Linked DNA regions of Homo sapiens. Each later gene encodes a partner of the first gene's protein in a complex. Each region holds a gene or a part of one and is shown in the gene's direction. Other genes may lie near its edges.

Evidence for each region.
Region 2: SMARCE1 (region 1) and SMARCC2 share a complex: the UniProt entries of both Homo sapiens proteins name them as parts of the BAF complex.
Region 3: SMARCE1 (region 1) and ARID1A share a complex: the UniProt entries of both Homo sapiens proteins name them as parts of the neuron-specific chromatin remodeling complex.
Region 4: SMARCE1 (region 1) and ARID1B share a complex: the UniProt entries of both Homo sapiens proteins name them as parts of the neuron-specific chromatin remodeling complex.

The regions. Positions count from the first base shown.
Region 1 is NC_000017.11:40,644,814-40,652,652, reverse strand, and holds the start of SMARCE1 (SWI/SNF-related matrix-associated actin-dependent regulator of chromatin subfamily E member 1), read left to right. Parts: upstream 1-4,834; 5' UTR 4,835-4,880; intron 4,881-6,805; 5' UTR 6,806-6,850; coding exon 6,851-6,857; intron 6,858-7,033; coding exon 7,034-7,077; intron 7,078-7,839. UniProt on the Homo sapiens protein: Involved in transcriptional activation and repression of select genes by chromatin remodeling (alteration of DNA-nucleosome topology).
Region 2 is NC_000012.12:56,179,463-56,186,486, reverse strand, and holds part of SMARCC2 (SWI/SNF complex subunit SMARCC2), read left to right. Parts: intron 1-246; coding exon 247-332; intron 333-1,375; coding exon 1,376-1,457; intron 1,458-1,550; coding exon 1,551-1,643; intron 1,644-2,242; coding exon 2,243-2,312; intron 2,313-2,556; coding exon 2,557-2,626; intron 2,627-4,407; coding exon 4,408-4,483; intron 4,484-4,651; coding exon 4,652-4,783; intron 4,784-4,889; coding exon 4,890-5,005; intron 5,006-5,385; coding exon 5,386-5,510; intron 5,511-7,024. UniProt on the Homo sapiens protein: Involved in transcriptional activation and repression of select genes by chromatin remodeling (alteration of DNA-nucleosome topology).
Region 3 is NC_000001.11:26,762,014-26,769,037, forward strand, and holds part of ARID1A (AT-rich interactive domain-containing protein 1A), read left to right. Parts: intron 1-138; coding exon 139-306; intron 307-959; coding exon 960-1,272; intron 1,273-4,207; coding exon 4,208-4,353; intron 4,354-4,443; coding exon 4,444-4,553; intron 4,554-5,776; coding exon 5,777-5,986; intron 5,987-7,024. UniProt on the Homo sapiens protein: Involved in transcriptional activation and repression of select genes by chromatin remodeling (alteration of DNA-nucleosome topology).
Region 4 is NC_000006.12:156,780,355-156,787,378, forward strand, and holds part of ARID1B (AT-rich interactive domain-containing protein 1B), read left to right. Parts: intron 1-7,024. UniProt on the Homo sapiens protein: Involved in transcriptional activation and repression of select genes by chromatin remodeling (alteration of DNA-nucleosome topology).

The DNA.
Region 1 (7,839 bases):
GGTCAAGACTGCAGTGAGCCTAGATTGCACCACTGCACTCCAGCTTTAGGCAACAGAGTGAGACCCTGTCTCAAAAATAAAAAATCTCTGAAGTCAAAAAATGCTTACATTAATTTGAAAGTTTCCATTGGAAATGTATTATGATACATGAGCCAAAATTAAATTTTAGTTAAACAATATGCATACACGTTACTCAAATTATCAACACATGAAATCAAAGGAAAGTTTGTCCACAGGGCAGAATTTGGTTCTATGTTTACAAGTTATGGCCGGCATGTACACACAGATTGCCAATATTTGTGGGCATATGACAAATAAAGGCTCTAAAATAAGGTATATGTGAAAATCAGTACAAGGCTTTCCAAGTTTCCCTCACATGCTTAGACTCTAGACCAGGCTTGGCAACCTTTTCCATCGAAGCCCAGAGAGCAAATATTTTAGGCTTTTCAGGCCATAGGATCCCTGTAACAACTACACAACCCTTCCCTTGTAACCACAAGCAACCAAAGACAATACGTAAATAAATGAAGGTGCTTGTGTCCAAATAAGGGTTTATTACAAAAACAGGAGGCAGCCCAGATAACGGCCTGCAACAATCTCGTTTGGCTACTGTGCCCTAGACTCCCAATATTATCAGTGGATAATAGACCCCACAACCCAGATTCTCCAGCTCTACCCTGTTTTCAACGTTCATCCTTTTCCACACCATGGGGCAACACTCATGTCCCAAATCCTCCAGGTTATTTTGAGGGCAACATAGAGGGTTCTCAAAGCAAACCGTGCTTTTTAAATTCTGTAAAACAGTGTGGATCACTCTGTCCTGGAAAGCTGCTAAACTTCAATATTTCACAACTATTTCCAGCTACAGAAAACAGAATACCCATAACTCCTTCTGCTCTCACAGAAACAGCTGAGAAAATTAGTTTGTTTCATCATGTTGTCTATAATCAGACTTTCATAGGCTATTTGGGTCAAGTAAAGCTTTGCTCTCGCTTTCCCTTGTTTAAGAAAAAAAAAATCCATTATAAAAGCTTCAAAAGAACATACTACAAACTCCATGGCTCAGTGGTTGGTTCATAATCTTTCTTGAGTCACGCACCTCTTTGAAAATCTCATGAAAGAATTAACCTATCAGGAAAAAAGCCCATAAAAATTGAGTATAATTTTAAAGGGTTCATAGATCACTTAGAGCCTATTCATGGACTACTGGGTGTCCAAGGACTTCAGGTTTTTCCTTATTCTGTCTTATTTTCTCCTTTTTTCTCCTTTCTTCCCAGTCCTACCCCTAACTCTGTCTCCATCACCCGTTTCTTCCCACAGAACAATGGAAAGAACTCAAAGACACCTGGACTAGAACCTTAGCTTACTTAGTTTTGGCTTCCCTGTCTTGGGGAAAGAAGAACCCCAAAAAAGTATGAGTAGTGTCAGAGGGGAAAGCAGGCCACGTTTCTGGATCTTGCTGCCAGAATGAAAACTAAGGCCTAAGTTAGGTCTTAATTGGGCCTAAGATTATCTCTGGGGTTAACCACTGGTCCCACGTGAGTGCTCCCAACTACCCTTATAGTTATATTTAGTTTAAATAGTCATATTGATGCTGTATCCCAAATTTTCTGGGAATAATCACAACTCCAAACATCTGTCCTGTAGTTACCATAAATATCCTTCTAAAGGCAAGAGCATATGTTCTGGTGTTTGCTTTGGGGGAAAAAAACTCATAATAAGTAAAGTCCATCTTGCTGGATAATTCACTCTTCAGTTTTAGTTTCTTCAGGACTAGAGAACAGATTATTTTTCTATTATCTCTTGCCTATATCCTTCTTTCTTTTCTTTTTTTTTTTTTTTAGAAAGGGCCTCTGTCACCCAGGGTGGAGTGCAGTGGCATGATCATGGCTCACTGCAGCCTTGACCTCCCAGGCTCAAGCGATCCTCCCACCTCAGCGTCCCAAATAACTGAGACCACAAATGTGCACCACCGCACCTGGCTAATTTTTTTTTTAAGAGATGGGGTCTCCCTATGTTGCCAGGCTGGTGTTTCTTAATTTTTCAAATCTTTGGTAGAGAAAGAACCAAGCGAAGAAAATGAGTCATTCATTTATTTACTCCACAAGTATTGAGCATCTAAATGTGCTGTGTACTGTTCCAGATGTCAAAATCTCCACCCTGATGGGAAAAAAAAGACGGCTGGGTGCGGTGGCTCATGCCTGTAATCCAGCACTTTGGGAGGCCGAGGCGGTGGATCACTTGAGGTCAGGAGTCCAAGACCAGCCTGACCAACATGGTGAAACCTCGTCTCTACTAAAAATACAAAATTAGCAGGGTGTGGTGGCACATGCCGTAATCCCAGCTACTTGGGAGGCTGAGGCAGGAGAATCACTTGAACTCGGGAGACGGAGGTCGTAGTGAGCCAAGATCGCGCCATTGCACTCCAGCCTGGGCAATAAGAGCGAAACTCCGTCTCAAAAAAAAAAAGAAAAGAAGAAGAAAAAGACAAAACAAAATAAATTCATAAGAAGTATAGTATGTTAGGTAGCGACAAGTGCTACAGAAAAAGTAAAGCACAGGCCATGAACAGACACCGGGGGTTGGGGAATGAGATGCAATTTTAAAAAGGTCAGGAAACACCTACTAAGAAGGTGACATCTGAGCAGAAACCCAGTGAGAAAGTGTATCAGACAATGTCACTGCTCCACTTAGGTCCCCTCCTTTCCCTTTTTGCCGTTTTTGGGCCACCCCTTTCCTACTATAGGGTGCTTTATTCTTAACATCCAAAACCTGCAGTTTTTCTTCAGAGGACTGCCTAGAGACAACACACAGCGCCTCCCCAGCACTGCACTCGCCCAATCCTCCCACCATAATCCCAAAGGCAGGGAAGAAACCAGGCTGGAGTTGCTGGACGAAGCCAGAAAAAGAATGTACTGAAATCCCTTCTGAGGCCTTTGTGTATCGTACTTTAATCCTTTACATGTCTCTGATGGATATATACATATATATATATATAATTTTTTTTTTTTTGAGACAGAGTCTCGCTCTCTCGCCCAGGCTGGAGTGCAGTGGCGCCATCTCCGTTCACTGCAAGCTCCGCCTCCCGGGTTCACGCCATTCTCCTGCCTCAGCCTCCCCAATAGCTGGGACCACAGGCGCCCGCCGCCACGCCCGGCTAATTTTGTTTTTGTATTTTTAGTAGGGACGGGGTTTCACCGTGTTAGCCAGGATGGTCTCGATCTCCTGACCTAGTAATCTGCCCGCCTCGGCCTCCCAAAAGAGCTGGGATTACAGGCGTGAATATTTTTTAACAAGCAATTTCATGTACATTTTCTCAAGCACCACTCAAGCTGCCTGTCCACGGGGCAGACGACTTCTCCTTTAGTCTTTCTCTTGAATATGCTCTTCAATTTCATTAATCTCTATTCATGAGTATAACAATATTGGAAAAATTGGACAGAGTATCACTTGTTCCTCGCTTTGCAGACTAGAGATGCTTCTAGTCCCTGTTGGCACACTCAGGATGGGGGCTACGGGAAGCCCAAGAATTCAGCCTCTCTCTAAATGTCAACTGTTTTCCAGTAACCACAGGTCAGGGATCCCATACGTTCATTCTCCCTCCACAGTGACCCACAATATCCATCGGGTGTTTATGTATCCAAAGAAGAGGCTACTCATTCCATCTGGTAAACCAACATACTCATGATTTAGTGGAAAGAGCCCTGGAGTGGCACAGAGGGCTGCCTCAATACACACTTACTGAGCGTCTAACAATGAATGGGTCAAGCCCTTCGTAGGCACTGGCAATGGGAAGATGACCAATACAGACGGCTGAACCTTGCTTTCAAGGCCTTCATAAAGCACTGGAGATGACAAACACGGTCCGATACAAAGGGTCGGGTTCAGGACTCCAACCATTATTATCAAAGAGCCACGGGAATACAAAGGAAGGATTACTAGGGGGGAAGTTCCAGGAGGGCATCACAAAGAGACCTCTGAGCTGGATCCAGAAGGACAGATGAGTTTAAGCTGAAAGTGGGGACGGTCGTTCCCGCTGGTGGGAACCGAAGGAGCCGAGGCAGCGCTGAGGCGGAGACCAGGTGGCACCCGCGGCGCTGCAAGGACACACAAGCTGTTGCGAGGGGGTCAACTCTCCGGGCCTTGGCTTAGAAACCTGGGACGATTACACCCTAAAAGCGCTTGGAAAAACTGCAGAACTCGTGCTGATTTTCGCCAAAGCTACTCCCCCGCCGTGAGGGCAGGAAGCCCTGCGAGGCGCCTGCGAGGACGCAAACGCCGCGAAGCAAGTCCTCCACGCCTCCATCCCAGGTTTAGTGAAGTGTAGACTCTGACCCACAGCCTAAAGGAAAGCAAGACCGGAGTCGGGGAGGGCCCCTCCAGGAGCGGGCTCAGCGGGAGTCTGGCCGAACTGCTTGCTGCCACAGTGGTTCCGCGGCCTCGCGCTGAGCGCCATCCGCCGTCTCCCACCGCGGCCCCCACCGCCCCTCCGCAAGGCTCGGCACCTCCCGCCACTTCCTCGGTCGCTGCGGCGGCTCCGGCTCCTCACAGCCGCTAAACCCAGGCCTATTCTGTGTTAGGTCGGGCCTCCTCGGCCCTCTTCGCCGTGACGAATCAGCGCCCGGCTGGGAAAGTATCAAAATTCGGGGAGTTTTGAGGATCCAATGGGTCCTGAAAAAAATCCCTGAGTGTGCTAAGCATCACCGCATCTTCACTAGAAGGTTAGTTTTTCTAAAGAGGGTCGGGTGGGGCCCGGAAAAAAAAAAAAATTAAGAAGAGTGTGGAAAGTGCGAGTGCGGAAGCTCCGGACGCGAGGGGCGGGGCGAGCGCGGGACAAAGGGAAGCGAAGCCGGAGCTGCGGGCGCTTTTTCTGCCCGCGGGTGAGTGTTTCCAAGTGGGACGGACCGGGTCGGTGGGTGCAAGTCGTGGTGTCCCCGCTTGGCTAGACCCCGAGTTCCCGGGGGTTGCTGGGGTTCAGCCTTGGCCGTGGGGCCAGAGCCAGGAGCCGGTTGAGGCCTCCTTGAGGCCTAGCAGAGCGAGGGTTGGGAGGGAGTCCCATCTGGGGCCCCCTCCTTGGAGGCAAGGCCAGTCCCCCGAAATTGGTCAAAGCACCTGTGAATACCCCGTTTTAGGGGAGTTGCTAGTAAAGTACATTCTCCAAGACAAAGAGAGCGACCTCAGGAAGCCGTGGGCAAGGCAGGTCCGTGGTTCACCCCCCACCCGGGCAGAAGGTTCCCCCATTGGTTCAGGCAGCGACTTGAGGACGAGCAGAGCTCTGAAATAGTTTGGCCTGGGTTTGAAACCCAACTTTGGCACTTCCTGGCTGCATATGGCTTCAGACAAGTTGTTTAAACTTTCCGAGACTCCCTTGTTTCATCTGTAAAATGGGGATAGCTGTACATATAAAGTACTTGTGAGTGTTAAGCGAAATAGTGTCATAAGCGTACCCCGTATAAAGTATTTCTTGAACAAATATTTATCGGGTATTTATTTTTATGCCAGGCACCAAAGATGGATCCAACGGTGGACAAATGTACAAGCCCACTCTTAAATTTTGTATTCTAGCAAAAGAGAGCAATAATTTTAAAGTATTAACAATGAAGTATAACGTACAGGGAGCTTATGTTAGTTGTCAGGGTCCCCTGCAGCGAGGCCTGCTGGATGTTGACAGCTCCCTTAATGTGAGCAGAAAGGAAATCTACACCAGAGTCAAAGGTTTCTGGCTGTTCTTTAAGAGGGAAAGACTCAGGTTGGACCATTGAGAAAATGAGCTGTTTCTTTCCACACCAGGACTCATTCCTTATGCTCCAGGGAATTTCCTTAAAATTAATAATAGAAGCGAAAAATCAGATCTATTCCACATGTTTGGTTGCAAATACCTCCAATAGTCATAGAAGTTTATTTGCCTTCTTTCCAAAGATGAATTTTTGTCTTTTTGTACCTCACTATTTGTGATGTATGTTGATGTAAAGAACAAGCTCACATGTGCCTGGTTATGTTGTGAGCTGGTAATACTAGGAAAAAATTTCCTAAGAATTGAGCTAGGTCCTGACATGGTCCCTCTTTCCAAGTAGCATACAATCTAGCCATATTGATAAGTTAAAAAAAAGTTATAATAATATAGATCTGTGTAAACTGTATAGGAATACAGATGGGGGAGCAGTTAATTCTGCCCAGGTAATGTATCAAGAAAGTTCCCTTGAGGAGAAAAATTTTGAAATGGGCTGTGAATGATGAATAAAAGTTTTTCAGGTAGACTCTCAAAATTTATTCCCAGCATTTATGAAGCTATTTACCATTATAAGAGAATGTGAAGTTCATTGTCATACCAATTACCTTTTGCACTGCTTCCAGGAATAAAATGCTGCCTAATTTTAATAAAAATTGTTATCCCAAAAGCATGATACAGTTGCTGATCAGGGAGCTGTCAGTATCTGGTAGGCCTTGTTGCGTTGGACCCTGATAATACATCACTTTCTATTCTCATCCTTGTATCAGTCTGATGAAATGTTTACATGGCGTCAGCAAAATGTTTTCCATACAAGAGGTAGCTTAGTATCACAAGAAAAAACCTGAAAGTACATTTCTAAATATCCCCAGTACTTTATTTTAGTCATTTAATTCTAATCAACCAAATGACCTATAAGAACTAGTTAAAATACACAAAAGGCTTAATTACTAGGAATTAAGGTGAAGTAATTTTACTCAGAAATACCAATTAAATTACCCTATTCATTAGGAAAACATTCTCGTATGCTTGCTGAGTTTTGATTCTCTTTTTTTTTTCCTTTTTTTTTTATTTTAGTGTCTCAGATTCATTCTTAAGGAACTGAGAACTTAATCTTCCAAAATGTCAAGTAAGTTTCAATTTTTATATTTATCAATCTATGTTAATAAGAGACTAATGCCCTAGCAAGTGGGAATTCCAAAATACTCTCATTTTTTTTTCTTCAAAACAGGACCATTGGTAGTTTTGTTGCATAGTATTATATCTCAGTTGTTTACAAGAAGTTATTTATTTTCTTTCAAACAGAAAGACCATCTTATGCCCCACCTCCCACCCCAGCTCCTGCAACAGTAAGTTTTAATTTTCTTGTTAATGTAATAGCCAACTCTGGCCTTGATACAAAAACCCAGATGTCTTCCAGTGACAGTCACTCAATCATCACAGCAACAGGATGAAATTCAGCTTAAAAGAAAAAAAAAAAAGCACTTCCTACTAAATAAAATAATTATTTGCATCTTTCCTTGAACCAACCCCAACATTTAAAGAAACAGTACTGTAAAACTCCAACCTCCTGTGCTCAGTTTGTTTTGTTTTTTCTTTGTAAATGGGAAATAAGTGAAAGTTTTACCATTTCTTTCTTATTAATCTTCACTATTAAGAGTCTTTAAGTTGTTACTGAGTGAATGCTCATTCTGGCTATTTTGTTAAACCTAACCTTCAACTGGTTATGTTTTTCTCTCCTTTCTTGTCTCTCTCTAAAATTTTCATATTAAACAATAAAGCTTCTGAAACTACTCATTGTAAATATTTTCAAGCTGTTCAAGTAAAGATTTCATTATCTATGGGGCAGATCTTGCTATTGAATCTTATTCCACTCCATAAATTATATTTTATTGGTTTGGAAGTATATATGTTTTAAGTAGTTGTGAACGTGTTTTTTCACCCAGGAAGCTCTGGCCCAGCTTGGTCAGCATGTAAAATAATTTTCCAACCCACAAAACAGATTTAGCAGTAACTGTTCAGGTCTTGCTGAAATGGCTTCCTTGTTGGTTTTTTGGGAGGGGGGGTTTTGTTTGTTTTTAAAAAAACACTGTTAGCATGACCAAATTCTA
Region 2 (7,024 bases), on another chromosome or scaffold:
GCCAGCTACTCAGGAGGCTGAGACAGGAGAATTGCTTGAACCTGGGAGGCAGAGGTTGCAGTGAGCCAAGATCGCGCCATTGCACTCCAGCCTGGGCAACAAGAGTGAAACTCCATCTCAAAAAAAAAAAAAAAAAAGGGAGATCAATTCAGCATGGGATTTTGTGAAAGGATTATTAGATTATTAAGTGATGAGAGAATTTACAGTGGAACCTTGACATGCTTTTTCCGTATCTTGATTTTGTAGATCAAATGTTTCCTAGATTTCAAAGCGGGAGGCTCCTTGTGCCACATTCTTGCAGCTGCCTACAAATTCAAGAGTGACCAGGGATGGTGAGATGATTCTCTCTATTCTTCTTATATTTAGTTTAGAGGAAATCCCCCTTTTTGATTCCCTGGGATCTTTCTGGGGTAGAAATTCTTGTGAGTCTCTTTATTTTGCTGGGTCAGTAGACCTGACTTACTACGTCAGGAAGATGGTTGGGAGTCAGAGCCAAAACAGTCTCCAAGAGTGAGTGTGTGAGTATCACTGTGTGTTTTGTAGAGGAAAAGGGATTCTTAGGTTGGCATCTCAAACCTTTTTTTGTCCCTTTGAAGTAAGCACAGAGAGTGATTCATGGAGTTGAGATCAGTGAACCTCAGATCCCAGGTGATGTTTGGCAATAGCTGTGAGCAAGCTTGCCTCCTAATTTCCCATATTAAGAAGTCATGGCTGGGCGCAGTGGCTCACACCTGTAATCCCAGCACTTTGGGAGGCCGAGGTGGGTGGATCATTTGAGGTCAGGAGTTTGAGACCAGCCTGGCCAACTTGGCAAAACCCCATCTCTACTAAAATACAAAAATTAGCCGGGCATGGTGGCGGGCACCTGTAGTCTCAGCTACTTGGGAGGCTGAGGCAGGAGAATGGCTTGCACATAGGAGGCAGAGGTTGCAGCTGGCCAAGATCGCGCCAGTGCACTCCAGCCTGGGCAACAGAGCGGGACTCCCTCTCAAGAAAAAAAAAAAGGCCGGGTGTGGTGGCTCATGCCTGTAATCCCAGCACTTTGGGAGGCCGAGGCAGGTGGATCACCTGAGGTCAGGAGTTCAAGACCAGTTTGACCAATATGGTGAAACCTCGTCTCTACTTACTAAAAATACAAAAATTAGCCACGTGAGGTGGTGTGTGCCTATAGTCCCAGCTACTGGGGAGGCTGAGACAGGAGAATTGCTTGAACCTGGGAGGCAGAGGTTGCAGTGAGCCGGGATCGCGCCACTGCACTCCAGCCTAGGTGACAGAGCAAGACTCCATCTCAAAAAACAAACAAAAAAGTCACGTGCCCTCACCTCATCTGCAGACCTGAGCTATACCACTCACTAGATTATTGCCTCTTCACAAGGCGGCGTTACGATTTCCAGAATCCATCACGCATGGACCGCAATGTGGAAATGTTTATGACCATTGAGAAGTCCTTGGTGCAGGTAATAGGCATATACCCTATTTATCTCCCTTCCCTCAGTGAGAATCTAAAACACCCCTTTCCTATAATCTCATTCTATTTCTTCTCTCCACAGAATAATTGCCTGTCTCGACCTAACATTTTTCTGTGCCCAGAAATTGAGCCCAAACTACTAGGGAAATTAAAGGACATTATCAAGAGACACCAGGTAAATGGTCTGGTGAGGAGAGGTTTCAGAAACTCCATGACTGTTTTCCCAGTGTTTTCTATACCAAGCAGCAGCCCTGAATTACCATGTTTTCTGCTTCAGAGGTGGCTCTGTCTACTTGGAAAAAGACTTGAGTTAAAGCCTTGAGTCTGTCTTTTTCTGTCTGCTTCTCCCATTTTTCAGTCCTGACAGGTTTGCATTACTGTTCTAGAGACTATGTTGGCCTGGGGAAAAATAGTATCCACTTCTACTGAGCTAGAGATTGCGTGATCTCAGATAAATGAAATTCCTGCTCTTTGGAACTTTATAGTAATGAATAGATGTCATTGATAAGGATGTACAGTGGACTTTAAATTTCCCATGTATAGATTATCTGTTCAGAAGATTATTTTTGGCAATTTTTAATTCTTTGACTTTTCTCCATTATTAGCACAATCCCAGCTGTTTCCCTCTGCCACTTAGCTGGTGTGTGCTTAGAGAATACAAACTAACTTTAATACTATTATAAGCAAAATATGGTTAGGAAGGCAGCTCTGTGGCTAAACCTTGAGTAATTCAGAGGGGACCATAATTTACCCGCTTCTCCTTTTACCATCCAGGGAACAGTCACTGAGGATAAGAACAATGCCTCCCATGTTGTGTATCCTGTCCCGGGGAATCTAGAAGAAGGTGAGACCTGGGTTTTCCTGTCCACTTGAGTGGATGGTTTGGACTAGGAGGCAGAGGACTAAGATCACCATTCAGTACCTGGGCTCCTCCTCTTCTTTCAATCTTGAATCCTCTTACCACCTTAAGTTCCTATTACCAAGTCCCCTGCTACAACAGGAGAGTGCATTAGTTAGGGCTTTTGTACAGTATTTTTTTTGTGTCCCCCTTTAGCTTATATCTCTCCCTTCTCTTCCTCTATCCCCAGAGGAATGGGTACGACCAGTCATGAAGAGGGATAAGCAGGTTCTTCTGCACTGGGGCTACTATCCTGACAGGTGAGGATGGGTTCCTGGGGCAGGTTTAAGTATAAGAGCCAGACCCAGAAGCCCTAGGACATCTAGCAGAGCAAGAGGCCACTCTTTCAGAGTTATTTTTAGATCACTTAATTTGTTTTCCTCTCACCTAGTAAGTGAACCTCTGTCTTGGGGGAGGTTTGGACTTAGTGGACAAGCCTTGGGCTAAAAGGATTGAGGCTTTATGTGTGAATTGATTATCCCAGCATCATTTTCGATAAGTAAATGTTAGAAACAATCTAAATGTCTAACAGTAGGAAAATGTTTCAGTAAATTTGTATATCTACTCAGTGGACTATTATGCAGTCTTTAAAGTGATATAACATGGATAATTTATAAGTGAATATTATTAATAATTGCAAAAAGTAGCATGTAGGCCTGGCATGGTGGCTCACGCCTGTAGTCCCAGCACTTTGGGAGGCCAAGGCAGGCGGATCACCTGAGGTTAGGAGTTCGAGACCAGCCTGGCCAACATGCTGAAACCCCGTCTCTACTAAAAATACAAAAAAAAAAAAAAAATTAGCAGGGCGTGGTGGCACACGCCTGTAGTTTTAGCTACTTAGGAGGCTGAGAAGCAGGATAATCGCTTGAACCGGGGCAGCAGAGGTTGCAGTGAGCCAAGATCACACCACTGCACTCTAGCCTGGGCGACAGAGCGAGACTCTGTCTCAACAAAACAAAACAAAACAAAAAATAGCACGTAGGCTGGGTGCAGTGGCTAATGCCTATAATCCCAGCACTTGGGGAGGCTGAGGTGGGCAGATTGCTTGAGCCCAGGAGTTTGAGACCAGCCTAGGCAACATGGTGAAACCCTGTCTTTACAAAAAAAAAAAATACAGAAATTAGCTGGGCATGGTGGCATGCACCTGTAGTCCTAGCTACTTGGGGGGCTGAGGTGGGAGGATTGCTTGAGCCCAGGAGGTTGAGTCTGCATTGTGCCATGATTGCACCACTGCACTTCAACCTGGGCAATAGAGCAAGACCCTGTCTCAAAAAAAAAAAGCATGTAAAATATCATCTAGTATGGTTATGATTATGTAAAAACATCATCTAGTATGGTTATGATTATGTAAAAAGAAAATTGTGGACCAGGCACAGTAGCTCACTCCTATAATACTAGCACTTTGGGAAGCCAAGGCAGGAGGATCACTAAAGGCTGGAAGTTCAAGACCAGCCTAGGCAGCAAAGTGAGACCCTGTCTTAACAAAAACAAAAACCCCAGCTGGACGCGGTGTCTCATGCCTGTAATCCCAGCACTTTGAGAGGCCGAGGTGGGTGGATCACGAGGTCAGGAGCTTGAGACCAGCCTGGCCAAGATGGTGAAACCCCGTCTGTACTAAAAATATAAAAATTAGCCGGGCGCAGTGGCAGGCACCTGTAATCCCAGCTACTCGGGAGGCTGAGGCAGGAGAATCGCTTGAACCCGGGAGGCGGAGGTTGCAGTGAGCCGAGATCGCGCCACTGCACTCCAACCTGGGTGACAGAGCAAGAGCAAGACTCTGTATCAAAAAAAAAAAAAAATTACTGTGGAGGAAAAACAGATATACAAGTATCAAGAGTAGTTACGTAAGGGTGATTCTTTTTGTTCTCTATTTTTGAAATGTTTCGTAATGTGCTTTTACTACTTTATAATGAATAGAATACAAAAAAAATAAGCCAAGAACCCAATACTTTCTGTAAATGGAAAGGGTAAAAGATCTGCACTTTACTTTTCCACAATTCTATCCCATTGATTCTACTGTGTGCTCAATTTCCCATGGCAGTTACGACACGTGGATCCCAGCGAGTGAAATTGAGGCATCTGTGGAAGATGCTCCAACTCCTGAGAAACCTAGGAAGGTGAGCTTTTCTTGTATCCCCTCTTCCCCAAAAAGAATGCCAGGAACAGTCTACCCTTTGGAAGTGAAACAGAGGCTTGTATGCCCTTGAGCTTTTTCTGTTAAGGGTCCCCAGACAGAGCTGTGGCTTCCAGGCTTCTCTGCAGCATGATCTGCCTTTGTACTTTAGGTTCATGCAAAGTGGATCCTGGACACCGACACCTTCAATGAATGGATGAATGAGGAAGACTATGAAGTAAATGATGACAAAAACCCTGTCTCCCGCCGAAAGAAGATTTCAGCCAAGACACTGACAGATGAGGTGACAAATCCTGTTCTTTTTTTCCTGGCGCCCTTAGCATAAGTCTCAGAACAAATCTTCAGTGGGGATTGTAGGCTGACATTTGTCCTGATTCTCCATCCTATAGGTGAACAGCCCAGATTCAGATCGACGGGACAAGAAGGGGGGAAACTATAAGAAGAGGAAGCGCTCCCCCTCTCCTTCACCAACCCCAGAAGCAAAGAAGAAAAATGCTAAGAAAGGGTGTGCCAGCCCCTAGCCTGCCCCCGTGTTCACCATTCTCTCCACATCATGTTGAAGGAAGGAAAGACAAATCCCTTCCTATAACCACCTGGCCCTGACCTGGGTGTGCCATAATACTGCAGGTGTCCTGAGAGGGAAGATGAGGAGATCTTTAGCTGCTCAGTTGTTAGTTCTGGTTCTGGCCCCACTAGTACATTTAAAGAGAGCTTTATCAAGTGAAAAGCCTTTGCCACTTCCCATTACTGTGTGATTACTGGTTTCTGTTTGTACTCAGCTCTACCCTTGGAATTCTCTGTCACTTCCCTTCCCTTGAACTTCAACTTCCAGGGACTCCTTGTCCAAGGATGACTGGGTTCTCTTTCACTCTCTTTCCTTCCCAGTCCCTCAACACCTTACACTAAGTCAAAGCGTGGCCACAGAGAAGAGGAGCAAGAAGACCTGACAAAGGACATGGACGAGCCCTCACCAGTCCCCAATGTAGAAGAGGTGACACTTCCCAAAACAGGTACAGGCCAGGCTGAGCTCCTGGGATCCACCCCCACTCCCCGTCTTGACTCTCCTTTGCCAAACCCCAAGTGAGCTGATTTCTCAGGTCCACCTCCCAGTCTACAGGATCTTTTCCTTAAATTTAGCTGGTTATTGGAATTACGGTCATTACCCTGGAAAATCCTCTAACTGTATATTCATATCTGAGTTGTGGACTGTGCTTTGTGCCTGATAGTAGTTGTCTCCAAACTCTTTGATTATGTGTTTCTGACAGTAAAATATATTTGAGCATGGCCAGGCACGGTGGCTTATGACTGTAATCCCAGCATTTTGGGAGGCCGAGGCGGGCGGATCACCTGAGGTCAGGAATTCGAGACCAGCCTGGCCAACATGGTGAAACCCCATCTCTACTAAAAATACAAAAATTAGCTGGGCGTGGTGGTGGGCACCTGTAATCCCAGCTACTCGGGAGACCGAGGCAGGAGAATTGCTTGAACCTGGGAGGTAGAGGTTGCAGGGAGCCGAGATTGTACCACTGCACTCCAGCCTGGGCGACAAGAGCAAAACTCCATCTCAAAAAAAAAAAGGGCCGGGCACGGTGGCTCATGCCTGTAATCCCAGCACTTTGGCAGGCCGAGGTGGGCGGATCACGAGGTCAGGAGATCGAGACCATCCTGGCTAACATGGTGAAACCCTGTCTATACCAAAAATACAAAAAAATTAGCTGAGCGTGGTGGCGGGTGCCTGTAGTCCTAGCTACTCAGGAGGCTGAGGCAGGAGAATGGCGTGAACCTGGGAGGCGGAGCTTGCAGTGAGCTGAGATCACGCCACTGCACTCCAGCCTGGGCAACAGGGCGAGACTCCATCTCAAATAAAAAAAAAGAAAAAAAAATGTATATATGCATTAATTATGTACTTGTACTGTTAAGCCGCTACCATGGGAACGTTTTAAAACACAAACATATCTAAAAAATTGAAAAATGTAAAGAATGATAAAAACAAACATGAAGAATCAGGGCGCGGTGGCTTACGCCTGTAATCCCAGCACTTTGGGAGGCCGAGGCAGGCGGATCACGAGGTCAAGAGATCAAGACCATCCTGGCTAACACGGTGAAACCCCATCTTTACGAAAAATACAAAAATTTGCCAGGCGTGGTGGTGGGCGCCTGTAATCCTAGCTATTCGGGAGGCTGAGGCAGGAGAATCACTTGAATCTGGGAGGTGGAGGTTGCAGTGAGCCGAGATCGCACCACTGCACTCCAGCCTGGGCGACAGAGCGAGACTCCGTCTCAAAAAAACAAAACAAAAAACATGAAGAGAAGTTCTGTATTCTCTCCCTGAGTTGCAGTGGATCATCTTTTGCGTCCTATGTTAGAACCCCACTTTGGAGACATTGCTCCACCAATACTGGTTTACAGTCTGTATTCTGTAGACTCACCCCAGGTATTCCAGAAGTGTATTTCAGGGGTAGGATTAGGGCTGCCACCAAGAAGAGTTCTGGCTTCTACCTCCTCATCAATCAGCTCTCTCTCT
Region 3 (7,024 bases), on another chromosome or scaffold:
TATATAGAAAATCAGATAGAGACTCCATGCAAGTGGCTGCTAAAGAAAATGTAGATGGTAAAGTCCCAGGATAAGGATGGAGAGCATTTGTTCGCATTGTATAAAGCTAATAACTATATGGATGCTACCCACAAATAGGTTATATGCAGAGGAACCCCCAGATGCCCCAGTACAGTTCCCCCCAGCCCGGCTCAGCCTTATCTCCGCGTCAGCCTTCCGGAGGACAGATACACACAGGCATGGGCTCCTACCAGCAGAACTCCATGGGGAGCTATGGTCCCCAGGGGGGTCAGTATGGCCCACAAGGTCAGTATACTACCCAGTTAGGAGTAGATACGGGTGAGAGGAGAAAACAGTTCCTTGTCTGATATGTTGCCATCTAGCTTGTAACCTTGTGAGAGAAGGGCTGTCCTTTGCCTTTAATCCACCCAGCCCAGGCCCTGAAGTAGGGCAAGGCAAGATTCCATTTGTCTCCACTTATTCTGTCACCATGAGAAAGTCTTTCAATTTCACTGAGCCTCTGTTTCATTTATAAAAATGGAGATTAGGTGTTTACTCCACCATTGAGCACAGACAATTTATACATGGTAGCTCTTGGTTATTATTTTTTTATTAATTATTTTTAGTGAATAAGTCATAATGGAATAGATCTTTGCTCAAAATTGCAGCCCTAGGCTGATCAAAAGTTGAGAATCTTACACAGAGCATGGAAATAGAAAGGAAGTTATCTTCTTCTGGAAGTTGAAATGCCTGTGTGGCAGCAAAGCCAGCCTTGCTCTGACCTGCCTTTACATGCTTCTGGAATCCCCCCCTTTTTCTCATGGCGATAAAGGCTACCATGAAGTTGATCTCTTTCCTAACCAAAATATTGAATGACATTGTTTGGTGTTCTAGAGTTGAGAGATATTAGTGAGTTGCTAGTGAGTGACTAACCAAGTCTTGTCTTCCTCCCCTCCCAGGTGGCTACCCCAGGCAGCCAAACTATAATGCCTTGCCCAATGCCAACTACCCCAGTGCAGGCATGGCTGGAGGCATAAACCCCATGGGTGCCGGAGGTCAAATGCATGGACAGCCTGGCATCCCACCTTATGGCACACTCCCTCCAGGGAGGATGAGTCACGCCTCCATGGGCAACCGGCCTTATGGCCCTAACATGGCCAATATGCCACCTCAGGTTGGGTCAGGGATGTGTCCCCCACCAGGGGGCATGAACCGGAAAACCCAAGAAACTGCTGTCGCCATGCATGTTGCTGCCAACTCTATCCAAAACAGGTAAGGCCTGGGAAGCAGAGAGGGTGTCAGTGCAAGAAAATGTATTATAGACCCACTCAGATTATTGAGATGCTTCTGGACCTAAACCAGGGGGGGAAAATGGGTGTGTGTGTATGAAGTGTTAATTCTTACATACCTTAGATGGGTCTGAAATTTCACGTGACTAAACATCATATGTAATGAGCTTTATAAAAGACAGGTTTTTGGCCGGGCGTGGCGGCTCATGCCTGTAATCCTAGCACTTTGGGAGGCCAAGGCGGGCAGATCATGAGGTCAGAAATCAAGACCAGCCTGATCAACATGGTGAAACCCCGTCTGTACTAAAAATACAAAAATTAGCTGGGTGTGGTGGCGCACGCCTGTAATCCCGGCTATCGGGAGGCTGAGGCAGGAGAATCACTTGAACCCAGGAGGAAGAGGTTGCAGTGAGCCAAGACTGCGCCACCACACTCCAGCCTGGGCGACAGAGCGAGACTGTCGAAAAAAGGGGTTTTGTGGGGTGTTTTATTTTGGGGTCTTTTGAGACAGGACCCTGCTCTGTTCCCCAGGCTGAATTGCAGTGGCATGACCACAGTTCACTGCAGCCTCGACCTCCCAGGCTCAAGTGATCCTCCCACCTCAGCCTTCTGAGTAGTTGGGACTACAGGCACACACCACCACACCCAGCTAATTTTTTTTATTTTTTATATTTATTTATTTATTTAGAGACTGTCTCACTCTGTTGCCCAAGCTGGAGTGTAATGGCACACTTTCAGCTCACTGCCACCTCTGCTTTCCAGGTTCAACCAATTGTCCTGCCTCAGCCTCCCAAGTAGCTGGTGTTACAGGCACCCGCCACCATGCCCTGCTAATTTTTATATTTTTAGACTGGGTTTCACCATGTTAGCCAGGCTGGTCTCAAAATCCTGACCTCCAGTGAGCTGCCTGCCTTGGCCTCTGAAAGTGCTGGGATTACAGGCATGATCCACCATGCCCGGCCTTTTTTTTTTTTTTTTAAATAGAGATGGGGTCTCAGTGTGTTGCCAGGGCTAAAGACTGCTTATTTTGATGTGCAAAATAAGTGTTCAGAGTAGGTGGTTTAACTTCTATCAGTCAACTTTTTGGTTTCCAAAAGGATTCTTAATGATACATATGTCTTGGATCTTTGGTGTTAGAAATAGCAAATGGTAAGCTTGTGGTTTGCCATTTCTCCTACTGTTTTATGTGGTCCTACGTGTTGACTCTGGTGCTAGAGTACAGAAGGCTCATGTGATTAGGTTTAACAACTTCTTTAGCCACTAAATCTTACTGAGTTGTTGTTGATGAACCAAGGTAGAATAGGGCGATTGACTATAAAGAGGTGGATTTGGTAGAACTTCAGAATGATGGAAGTGCAAAGTTTGCATTGGGCCCCTCAAGAAATAATGCAAAGCCACCTCTGGGTGCTATGCTGAGGGTTCCAGTCTGGTTGGGATTTAGCATGACAAAAAGTGGTACAGTTCAGCATTTCATCTATGCCTTTTGCCACAGACAGGGCCCTTAAATGGAAATACAACTTGACTTTGGAGGTGGCTTTGAGGAAGGCAGTACTTAAAGGACACAGCAGGGCTCTGCTTCAAAGAATTACACCCTTTGAAATTGAGCTATTGTGGCCGGGTGCGGTGGCTCACTCCTGTAATCCTAGCACTTTGGGAGGCTGAGGCAGGTGGATCACCTGAGGTCAGAAGTTCAAGACCAGCCTGCCCAGCATGGCAAAACCCCATCTCTACTAAAAATACAAAAAAATAGCCAGGCATGGTGGTGGGCGCCTGTAATCCCAGCTACTCACGAGGCTGAGGCAGAATGGCTTGAACCTGGGAGGCGGAGGTTGCAGTGAGCCGAGATCATGCCATTGCACTCCAGCCTGGGAGATGAGTGAAACTCCATCTCAAAAAAAAATTGGCCGGGCATGGTGGCTCACCCCTGTAATCCCAGCATTTTGGGAGGCTGAGGCAGGCGGATAACGAGGTCAGGACATCGAGACCATCCTGGCTAATACGGTGAAACCCTGTCTCTACTAATAAAGTACAAAAAATTAGCCGGGCGTGGTGGCAGGTGCCTGTAGTCCCAGCTACTTGGGAGGCTGAGGCAGGAGAATGGCGTGAACCCGGGAGGCGGAGCTTGCAGTGAGCTGAGATCGCGCCACTGCTCTCCAGCCTGGGCAACAGAGCGAGACTCCATCTCAAAAAAAAAAAAAATTGAACTATTGTTTGCTATCTAGAGCTTGAACTCTCTTAGTATCTTTCGTGGGAGGTAGAAGATAAGAAAATCTGGGTGTTGGCCGGGCTCGGTGGCTCATGCCTGTAATTCCAGCATTTTGGGAAGCCGAGGCAGGTGGATCACCTGAAGTCAGGAGTTCGAGACCAGCCTGACCAACATGGAGAAAGCCCATCTCTACTAAAAATACAACATTAGCCGGGTGTGGTGGTACATGCCTGTAATCCCAGCTATTTGGGAGGCTGAGAAAGGAGAATTGCTTGAACCTGGGAGGCTGAGATTGCAGTGAGCCGAGATTTCACCATTGCACTCCAGCCTGGGCAACAAGAGTGAAACTCTGTCTCAAAAAAAAAAAAAAGAAAATCTGGGTGTTAGCTGGACATGGTGGTGCATGCCTCATAGTCTTAGGCACTCAGGAGGCTGAGGAAGGCAGATTGTTTGAGCTCAGGAGATTAAGGCTGCAGTAAGCTATGATCACACCACTGCATTCCAGCCAGGGTGCCAGAGCAATACCCTGTCTCAAGAAAATAAATTAAAGAAAAATAATATCTGGATGTTGCATAGTTCTAGTTTTGGGGACCCATAAATGTTTTCCTTTTAATCCTTACTAGATGATCACACAGCACTATTTGGCTCCAGTTCAAATCTAAAAGCTCAGAGTCTAACCTTTGTCTCTCTCACTTTCCATCTTCTTCCTTAGGCCGCCAGGCTACCCCAATATGAATCAAGGGGGCATGATGGGAACTGGACCTCCTTATGGACAAGGGATTAATAGTATGGCTGGCATGATCAACCCTCAGGGACCCCCATATTCCATGGGTGGAACCATGGCCAACAATTCTGCAGGTAAGTGCTAGTCATTCTCACTAGGGATTTCTTCAAGAGTCACATCACAGCTAAACTTACTGGACTTGAGAATTTTTTTCTCTTTTACAGGGATGGCAGCCAGCCCAGAGATGATGGGCCTTGGGGATGTAAAGTTAACTCCAGCCACCAAAATGAACAACAAGGCAGATGGGACACCCAAGACAGAATCCAAATCCAAGGTAGTGATTTTTGTCTTGACTCCTTTCAACTTTGTGTCCTATCTTTTTCAGTGATAGGAAGGAAAAAGAAAAGAGAGTGACAAGATCCCAGCCTTTTATGACACCGGACTAGATAGTCTCTGAAAAAGCTGCTGTTGCCTCCTCTTATCATGAAAGGTCCCAGAATAATAGCTCAGTGAGTTGGGTCTGGGTTGGTCTAAGGGATCCTGGTAAATAACATAATATTCTCACAGCTGTTTGTTATGGGGGAAATGCCAGACACTGCAGCATCAAACTCTCTGTACTGTTTGGCTGGTGCCCTCTGTGAAACCGTGCCTCCTATACTCAAGCATTGATAGATGGGGTGTGCCATGGGCAACTAGTTGCTCTTCTCTTCCTGAACCTTACTCATAGCAGCAGGAATGGTACCCTGTGTTCTGTAAAGAAGGAGATAAGGCAGATGAGGCTTGAGTCCTTGGCTTCCCTTAGGTTGGTCCTGGGTGTACTGTTAGGCTGTGCGGTAGTAAAGGGTCCTACTCAGCATTTGGGTCATTTGTAATATTTCTGTCCTTGGCCATACCTCACTTTCCCTATCTGTATACATAGGGAAAATAAAAATCATAGCTGTTAATTCCTGTGAGTCTTCACCTCTGGCTCCCAGCCCTTTTGACCACGTTCCTGTCTTGTACAGGATAATATCCAAAGCCCTTCAACCAGGTGGGAAACCTTTCCTTTGTTTAGAAGAGGCAAAGAGTTTCTTTTCATTTTAGTCCATCCCATTGCCTCAAGATCATGTTGTGAGTTTTTCGATTTCTCTAAAACATAGTACCTAAGTATGTTCAGGCTCCTGGGTAGTAGTGTGGGAGCAGTAGTGGCTTTGATGTCAGGTGGACAAGGATTTGATACTCAGCCTGCCACTTAAAAGCTGTGAGATCTTAGGCTTTGCCTCCTGGTGCCTGCTTCCTTATCTTTACAAATGGGGATAATTTTATAATACCTAATATATAAAGGCATCTAGCACAGCACCCAGTACATAACATATATTTAGTGTTAGCTTCCTTCCTTTATAGGAAAAAAAAATTTGGTTCTCTTTTGGCCCTTCAACCTTATGAAGGTAGGACAGGTGTTAGTAACCACCCCAGAGTAAGAAGCTTTAACACTGCTCCAGTCAAGAGACTTCTGAGACCCTTAGCACAGGCTTTGAATCTGACCCATTCCTATGAATTTTGACCTGAACCTTCCAGAAATCCAGTTCTTCTACTACAACCAATGAGAAGATCACCAAGTTGTATGAGCTGGGTGGTGAGCCTGAGAGGAAGATGTGGGTGGACCGTTATCTGGCCTTCACTGAGGAGAAGGCCATGGGCATGACAAATCTGCCTGCTGTGGGTAGGAAACCTCTGGACCTCTATCGCCTCTATGTGTCTGTGAAGGAGATTGGTGGATTGACTCAGGTGAGTGGGCGCCTGACACTTGACTGCCCCTGTGGTTTCCACAAACCCCTTTCTAGGTACTCACTGGCTTCATGTGGTACCATGCATCCCACAGGGACATCATCCCCTCTCCCGCTTTCTGAGTCTAATATTGATAGACCGGGGAGCACAGGTTTCCCAGAAGATAAGGCAGGAAGCAGAGACCTCCCTGGTAGTATGAGGTATTAGCAGTAAGTTTACCGTGTATCTATGGTCCCACTGAGGTGTAAAGCTAGGGAAAGTCTGTGGGCATTCTGATTCCATGGGAGGCAATTTGGCATAGTAGCAAAGACAGGATTTGGAGAGATGGACCTGGTTTTGAATCCCTTCTTGGCCACTTATAACATATATGACCTTAAGGTGTGTAACCACTCTGAACCTTAATTTCATTATTTGTAAAATACAAACAGTATGTAACAGTATATAACCCACTAGACTGTCAAAAGTTAGAAATAACTTTGGCTTTCAGCAAGGTTTCTGCCACATAAATCGGCCTGCAAGATGGTACAGAGGCAGCCAGAGTAGAAGTAGATCTTCCCATTCCTGGAAGCTTCCCAGTAGAGATAGGATTTCAGGAACTGCTTAGTAGAAATAGTTTATAATAAAGGAAGAAGTAGTAGGAAATTATGTGTTTAGTTATTCTGTATGGGAAACTTAAATGAAAACCTGAATTGGACACCACCCAGAGCTTGTGCCTACTCTGATACCTTACAATTTTGTAGACTCAGCCCAGGAAGCAAACAGGTGAGGCAGCACAGACAGACAGCAGACTGTGCCTTGCAGACTTCCCTCCTGTGTATGTTCTGTAGTCACCAGACCAGAAGCCTGCTGTTGGATCAGTTTGTGGCTGAGCTCGGGGAGGTGTGGCAGGGAGGGATTTATTCCAAACCTTCTAAATCAGAAGAGGAAAACAGCTGTCACCAGCAGAAAAGAAAGTGGTTGGAATGAAGCCAGCCAACAGTCAGTTATGAATTCCTTCTCCCTTCAGGCTTTATTCCCCTCCCCCACAAAGGAAAACAA
Region 4 (7,024 bases), on another chromosome or scaffold:
ATTTTCTTTATTTTGCTGTCACCCGAGTCCTACAGCGCTGTTAGGAAGTGTCCTGCACTCTTGCTGTTTCTTGCTAGTAGGCTGAGCCTAAAGACTGACTTGATCTCCTTTGCAAGGTTTGGAATTTGAATTGTGGAGGTAAACTGGCTGTAATAGTCTCCAGACAGCTGCCTCTGAGTTGACATCTAATCTGCCATCTGATTGGCTCCCCTCTCACCATTGGGCATTTAGCACTGCTGATGTAAATAGAAGTGCTGAGCAGTACAGTCACAAAAATTCTTGCCACAAATAATAACTGAGCTCTATTACAAGCAAATGTAAGGTTCAGTATTTAAAGCTGAAACTATTATGAATCATAGTTATTAATAAGAGGATCAAATACAGAAAAACAGTTCGCTGGTGTCCAGTATTGGGCATTTACAAAATTCAGATCTTTGATGATAGTCTTAGAATATGCACATTACATATATCATAGACTTTAATTGGAGGCTGAGGATAAGGCCATTGAAAAATAAGTAAACCACGAATTTTACCAATTTTTGGATTTGTAAAGCCTTTATAAAAGTCTTCCCTTTACAAATTCAACTATGGAAAAATTTGAATTCTGTCAGCACACGCAGCTTAATAAAACCTTAAAATTTTTTTAAGATTTTGATAGGCAGCAATATATTTTGGTGATGTGTAATTCACCTGATAAACAAGATTTAAGCTTCATTTTTTTGTGATTTATCAGTTCTGACTGTTCAAAGATATTTGTGGATGAGGAGTTTTGGTTAGAATTGACATATTTAAAAAACGAAATGAGGAAACCACATATTTGTGCAGATAACAATAATTAAAAGGGGAAAAATGAGATATTCCTGTGAAATACTAAGAATCATTTCATATTTGCTTTTGATGTGGAGAATACAGAAATGCCCCATAATCTTTTTTTTTTCTTCATTGTTTTGTTAGATTAGGTAATTTGAGCCTTGTTTGAACTGCTTACACGATGAATTAGGGAAACTATATTCTAAGCAAGTTGTGCTGGGTGTCTTTTTTTCCAAATAATTTTTCTTTCATGTTAATGCTATGAAAGTTTAAAAAATCCTAATCTGTTAGAGAGGAACAACAGTCGTTGTATGTATATTTTTATGTAACTCATTTATTTTAGGAAGAGGTATTTTAACAATAATCATACCTTAGAGACTTGTCAGAGTGAAGGAAGGGCTGAATTTAACAAATAATCTTGTGAATCCTAGGCTGAACACTGCTGTCCACTGCTTTCAGATCTTTAGTTATTGGAGTTTTGCTTTTAAGGATAATAGATTTTTCTATTCTTAATAGAAAACTTGTGATTTCAACTTGTTTTTGATTCACACGAGGAAAAACATTATAGAGAAGAATCATGGAAATAAACCCACGTAATTAATTTTAAAAAGGTTTGCTTTGTCAGCCTGCTTTTAAAGGAGCAGTTTAAAATTCACATCTTCGTAAACTAGAGACGAATGAAGTTAGAGGCAGATGTAGGACCATGTTACTTTAGAGTATTTTTTTCTTAATGGTACCAATCATTTTCAGTATTTTGTTTTCTTGTAATGAGAATGAATCCATTATGTCCCTATGACCCTTGGGAATAGGCTTTTTTTTTTTTTTTTTTTTTTTTTTTTTGTTGAGGTTGGGGGAAATATGGACATGCGACCTAGATTCAGGAATTTCTTTTAAGTACCTTACCGTGTAACATGTGGAATGTGTCTTTTTTACAATCCTTTTTTTTCTTTTCTTTTTGGAAGTTAGTATTATTTAGTATTAGTTGTTGTAATTATACTAAGAAACAGTCATTTGTCCAAAATATTAAATTACTGCCTGACTGTAGGTCATGAAATGCTATTAAATCACATTGTTAAATGATGAAATATTTTGGCTTTTAATATGTTTTTAGTTTCATTTTTGATTTCAGGAAATAGTTTCTATTGGGTGGCAAATGTTTTCGTAATTGGGACAAAACGTGTATATATTATAGGAGAAGGGTCTTTTTAAAAAGTGAAATAAGCCATTTGACGATTCAGTTTATTACTAGATTTTTGTAAGATGAGTATTCAGATGGAGCAGTCTCAAAAGGAATATTGAGGTCTACTCACGCACATAGGTTTTATGATGTCCACATTTCTACTGAATTCCATAAATGCAGTTTTAACTTTTAGTTTTATAAAACGTAGTACAATGTATTAAGAAAAGGGCCTTATTTACCATTAGAAGAAAAGTGATTAGCTAGCATGCGAAGCAGGAAGCTACAAACTGGTTCCTGATTACCTTAAAATGTGTGTGAGATACATTATTTGATAAAATCACTCCCAGTTAAATTTTAGGGTGTCTGATATTTTAAATCTTGTAAACAAATTTTTGTGGCCTAAATTTATATATTTGCCAAAGTATGGATGGCTGTGTATAGTTAGAAAAGGTGGACTTAGTAACTGTGGCTAATGGAAAGGGCCTATCATTTAAAAAACAGGAAAAGAAAATATAACAAATGTCTGCAGTTTTGTTTTCTGAATCATCTGGGATGAAATTATGCATGGCTTAAAATCGTTTTCATTGGGAGTCCTGATTTTTGTGGTACATACTTTTGACAATATTTTGGTAGTTTTTTTTTTTTAGTGGTAGCCACTCTTTAAGACAGCTATCACTTAGGTTTATGTTTATATTAATACTACATCAGTAAGTATATGCTAGGGACTAGCACATCCTTACCTTGAATCTATAATGAGGAACCTTAACCCCTCTTTGCTTTGGCTCTGCTTGTCTATATTTAGTCATGAATTTTTGGCAAGGCTTTTTATACTTGTTCCATTTTTCTCAATGTCATAGTGTATCAGAAGTGTGTTATGGATGTGGAAATAATGCAGATCACACTTGGACACTTTTACTAATATACTTAACCTCTGAATGTCATTTTCCTTTACTGAAATTGAAGAAAATAACGTCTTTATTCTGATATTTAAAAAAAAAAAACATTAATTCTGATTTGAGAACTGATTTTAAAAATGTAAGACAATGTAGAGGAAGACTTAATATAAGCTCATTTGATCGTTTTATTAGACACAGATACCTTTTAAAGAGAATAGGTGTAATAGAATGCGGTTGAGTTTTCAGTTCTATTTTTTATTAATAGACTTTATTTCTTTATGATTCTGGGCAGGGTGTATCTATCTAAAAAGATGACTTCTGATGTAATAGGAACACTTGCTTTCCTAGGATAAATTCCAATATCACAGGCAAACCGAAAAGATGATCATTTCATTTATTTAACCCTACCCTTTCCTAGGAGATGAGTGATTTGATGAACATTTGTTAGGGTTCCATGAAATTTTCTACTCCGTTTGGAGACTCACTGGGGATGTAAATTTTGGATGTGCTGGCCTAGGACTCTGTATTCGCTTTTTTGCCGGTGTCCTCAATCTGGAGGCTTTTCTTGCAGCTCTACACTGGACTGACACTGCTCAGCTCATGGGGTTGTGTGCTTTGATCCATGTGGGTGGAAAAGGGACTGATATTTCACTCGTGTCACTTTTGTTTTGGAGTGTATGTGTAGATTTGTAAATTTGAGATTGATATTTATGTTTGATAGAAGTGTGGTGTGTTGCATAAAATGACAGATTTATGGAGGCTGAAAATATTAATAAAACTTAATTCCATTTTTTTTTTGCAATATTTAGGTTTTCCAGTTGGATGTTATAAAATTTTTATGACATTTTACACTGCTGTTATTACTCAAGGGGCCGTATCCACCTCTTAGGCCTTTTTGGGATTGGGTGGTTTTGGTTGCATGCCTTTTCGGAGGTGCCCTTTCCTGAATGGGAGGGAGGTTTTTGCAGGTTCTCTGTGGATATGTAAAGTAGTGCCGCACGCTTGCTGTGTGTGCTTGCTTGAGGCTGAGGAATCCCAAACCCTGTTCCCTGTCGTGTCCGGGAGAGGCACCAGGCAAAACTGTTCCTCTACCAAGAATATATTTCTGTATCATAGATGTAGAACTATTATAAATATCTTTTCTCTAGCTTGGAGGCTATTTGAATGAGACTCAATGGCCCTTTTGGTTTAATTGGGTAATTGAGTGAATTAATTCTGATCTAAAAACTTGGTGTACTTTAGCAACTTTTTCTTCAGGAAATTTGGTAAAGATAAAATGACTTAGGTATCAGTCATTACCTGAGTGTCCTAAGTATTCATTTGTTTTTCCTTATACTGACATCTGAATGAATGGAATGATAGACATATACTATATAGTTTTAATTAGCAATTCACTTTGAGTGAGTGAATTTTTTCAGAGTAGAATATGTGTTTCCACTGTAAGTTTTCACTAAATATGTTCTATTTTCAAAATCTTTGACTTGGAGTAATTCTAAGAAAATTCTTTCCTTACATTTAGTTATTTGTTTTTCTTTTTGAGACAGGGTCTCACTTTGCCACCCAGGTTGGAGTGCAGTGGCGCGATCTTGGCTCACTGTGGCCTTGACCTCCCAGATTCAAGTGATTCTCCTGCCTCAGCCCCGCAAGCAGCTGGGACTACAGGTGCACGCCATCACACCTGGCTAATTTTTGTATTTTTCGTAGAGATGGGGTTTCGCCATGTTGCCCAGGCTGGTCTCGAACTCCTGACCTCAAGTGATCCACCCTCCTCGGCCTCCCAAAGTGCTGGGATTACAGATGTGAACCATCCTGCCAGGCAAGATTTACTTACTTAAATAGGATCCAGTAGGCAGTTTTCAAACCCACATCTGTATGGATCAATGCCAAGAATATTAGAAGGCTACTGAGTTTGACAGATGAACTAATGATGAAATTAACTTGTTTCTTGGATGAGATTTATTACCAGGCACCAGACTAAAGCCCTAAAATCTTAAGCCTATCTGGTTTATGAATAGCTACTCTTATTTCCATTATTAAAATCAGGTAGATGGCAGCAGAATCTGGAGGAGATTCACCCTCTGTTGACCATCTTCTGTAAGGTGCACTTCTCAGTGTCTTCCTGGGCCTTGATGAATGATGAGCTGGAGAACTAGACCAGAAGCCATTCCTTATCAGGTGACTCTGGAAGGGAAGCCATATTTGATGAAATCCAGAAGAAATCCTGGACCATAATGCTACATTTTTTCTTTTTTTGTAATGGGATGCTAAAAAATTAAATATATGGTTTTTTTTTTAAATAGAGGTAAGCTATACGTACATAACATACAACTTACCATTTGAACCATTTTTAGGCATACATTCCAGTGGCATTAAGTACATTGTCATTGTTGTGTGGCTGTCACCATCATCATCTATCCCCAGAACTTTTCCTTCTCAAACTGAAATAAAAATATTTTTCTCTTTCTTTTAAAATTGTTAGCTGCTAATGTGTATTGTAAGTAAAATAATCTTGTTTTTGTAACCATTAATCTTATCACTTCATAGTTTGTGAGTAAATTCTTCCGCAGACATTCCATCAGGATGCTAATGGTTTTTTTGTTTGTTTGTTTTTGTTTTTTATTAGTACATTACTTCCTCTCAATTCTAACTTTGGGGTAATCCTCATAGAGTTTGAGGATCTCTTTGGAGATGTGTATTACAAAGGTTAGTAGTTTCACTGCCAGTTATGTTATTAAAATTTTGAAAAGCAGCTTTTTGGAACCTTTCTAAAGTTTAAAGGTTGAGGGTATTTGTTGAGAGAAACCTGGGACTTGGTTAGATAATAGGGTGTGGAAATGAACTGTTACCATTCTCACTTTTCCCTTGCTTTTCTTCCCTCACCTTTTGCATTTGTAGTCTCTTAAAAATTATTAATTTTATTTTCCCACTATTAGTGAAAATCATTTATAGTGATATTTTTTTCTATTCTTTCTGTGTTTGAAGTTTCTGGGCATCTCACCCCTACCAACCCAGAGCAAACCCAGAGTCTAGGTGGTGCCATGTCCTTTTCCATAGTGTTCTCTGCCACCAAATTTGTGCCTCCCCCTCATGTTTTTACTTTTTAGTCCTCTGCAAAACTTCAGAAATTCTTTGTATGTGGAAAAATTACTAAATTAAGATGATTGACCTTTTAGAATTACATTTTAAAGGCAGCTGTGAAGGGAGACTTCTAGATCCTGCCTAGTCTCATGAACAGGCGTCTTTGGTTTGTGTAAGGTATTGGAATTGTACTGGAATTGCTGCTGATGCTGATAGGTAGTCACATCTTTGTAAGATCAGTTATGTACTTTAACACCAGCTTCCACAGAGAGGAAATGAACTGTTACTTAAGAGCTTGTACTGGGAAGCAATAGTTATTTCTTTAAGGTGTAAACATTTAGCATTTGTGTATGCAGTGAGGTATATGTTAGATAAATATCTACTCCAGACAGTCAATTGGCAAATATTTATTGAGCTCCCACTTTCTTAATCAGCCCTGTGCCAGAGACAGACAATAGCTGGGGTCTGGGGATTGCTGCTGTTGGTGTGCGGATCATGCAGAGATACTGCTAACGCTTGCTCCCTCCATACCTGGATCGTGGTATTGCTGACATCATTGACTTAGAACTGGCTCATTTAAACAAATTGCAGATAGCAACCATGTGGGTCAGCAGTCTATTTGGCCTGCTTTTTTTTTTTTTTTTTCCGGTGGGGCAGTATATTTTGGCAAAACAAAATCTGGTCAACAACAATTGTAGGTTGTTGTGATATAGTTGATGTGATCTAGTGACTCTTTTCCATTTCTACCAATCAGTTACTGGCTTTGTGCCAGAGCGAAATATAGATTCACTACCGAGAATAATAACTAAAAGAAGGAAAATATAATCACTTTCAAATTTATATAGAATGGTCCTTTTTCTTTTTCTCAGTTTTCTACATTACATAGATTCTTGGAAAAAAAGTTAAAACAGTCTGTTCAGATTTAGGAAGATACTTGGATTGCTGGGGTATTTTTGGTAACTGTTTAGATAATGTATGCTGGCTGAGGAGTAAATTCAGCTACTGCTTCTGGGTCCTGAAATAAACCTTTCAGAAAGCGAGGCATTGATGATTAGTGGAG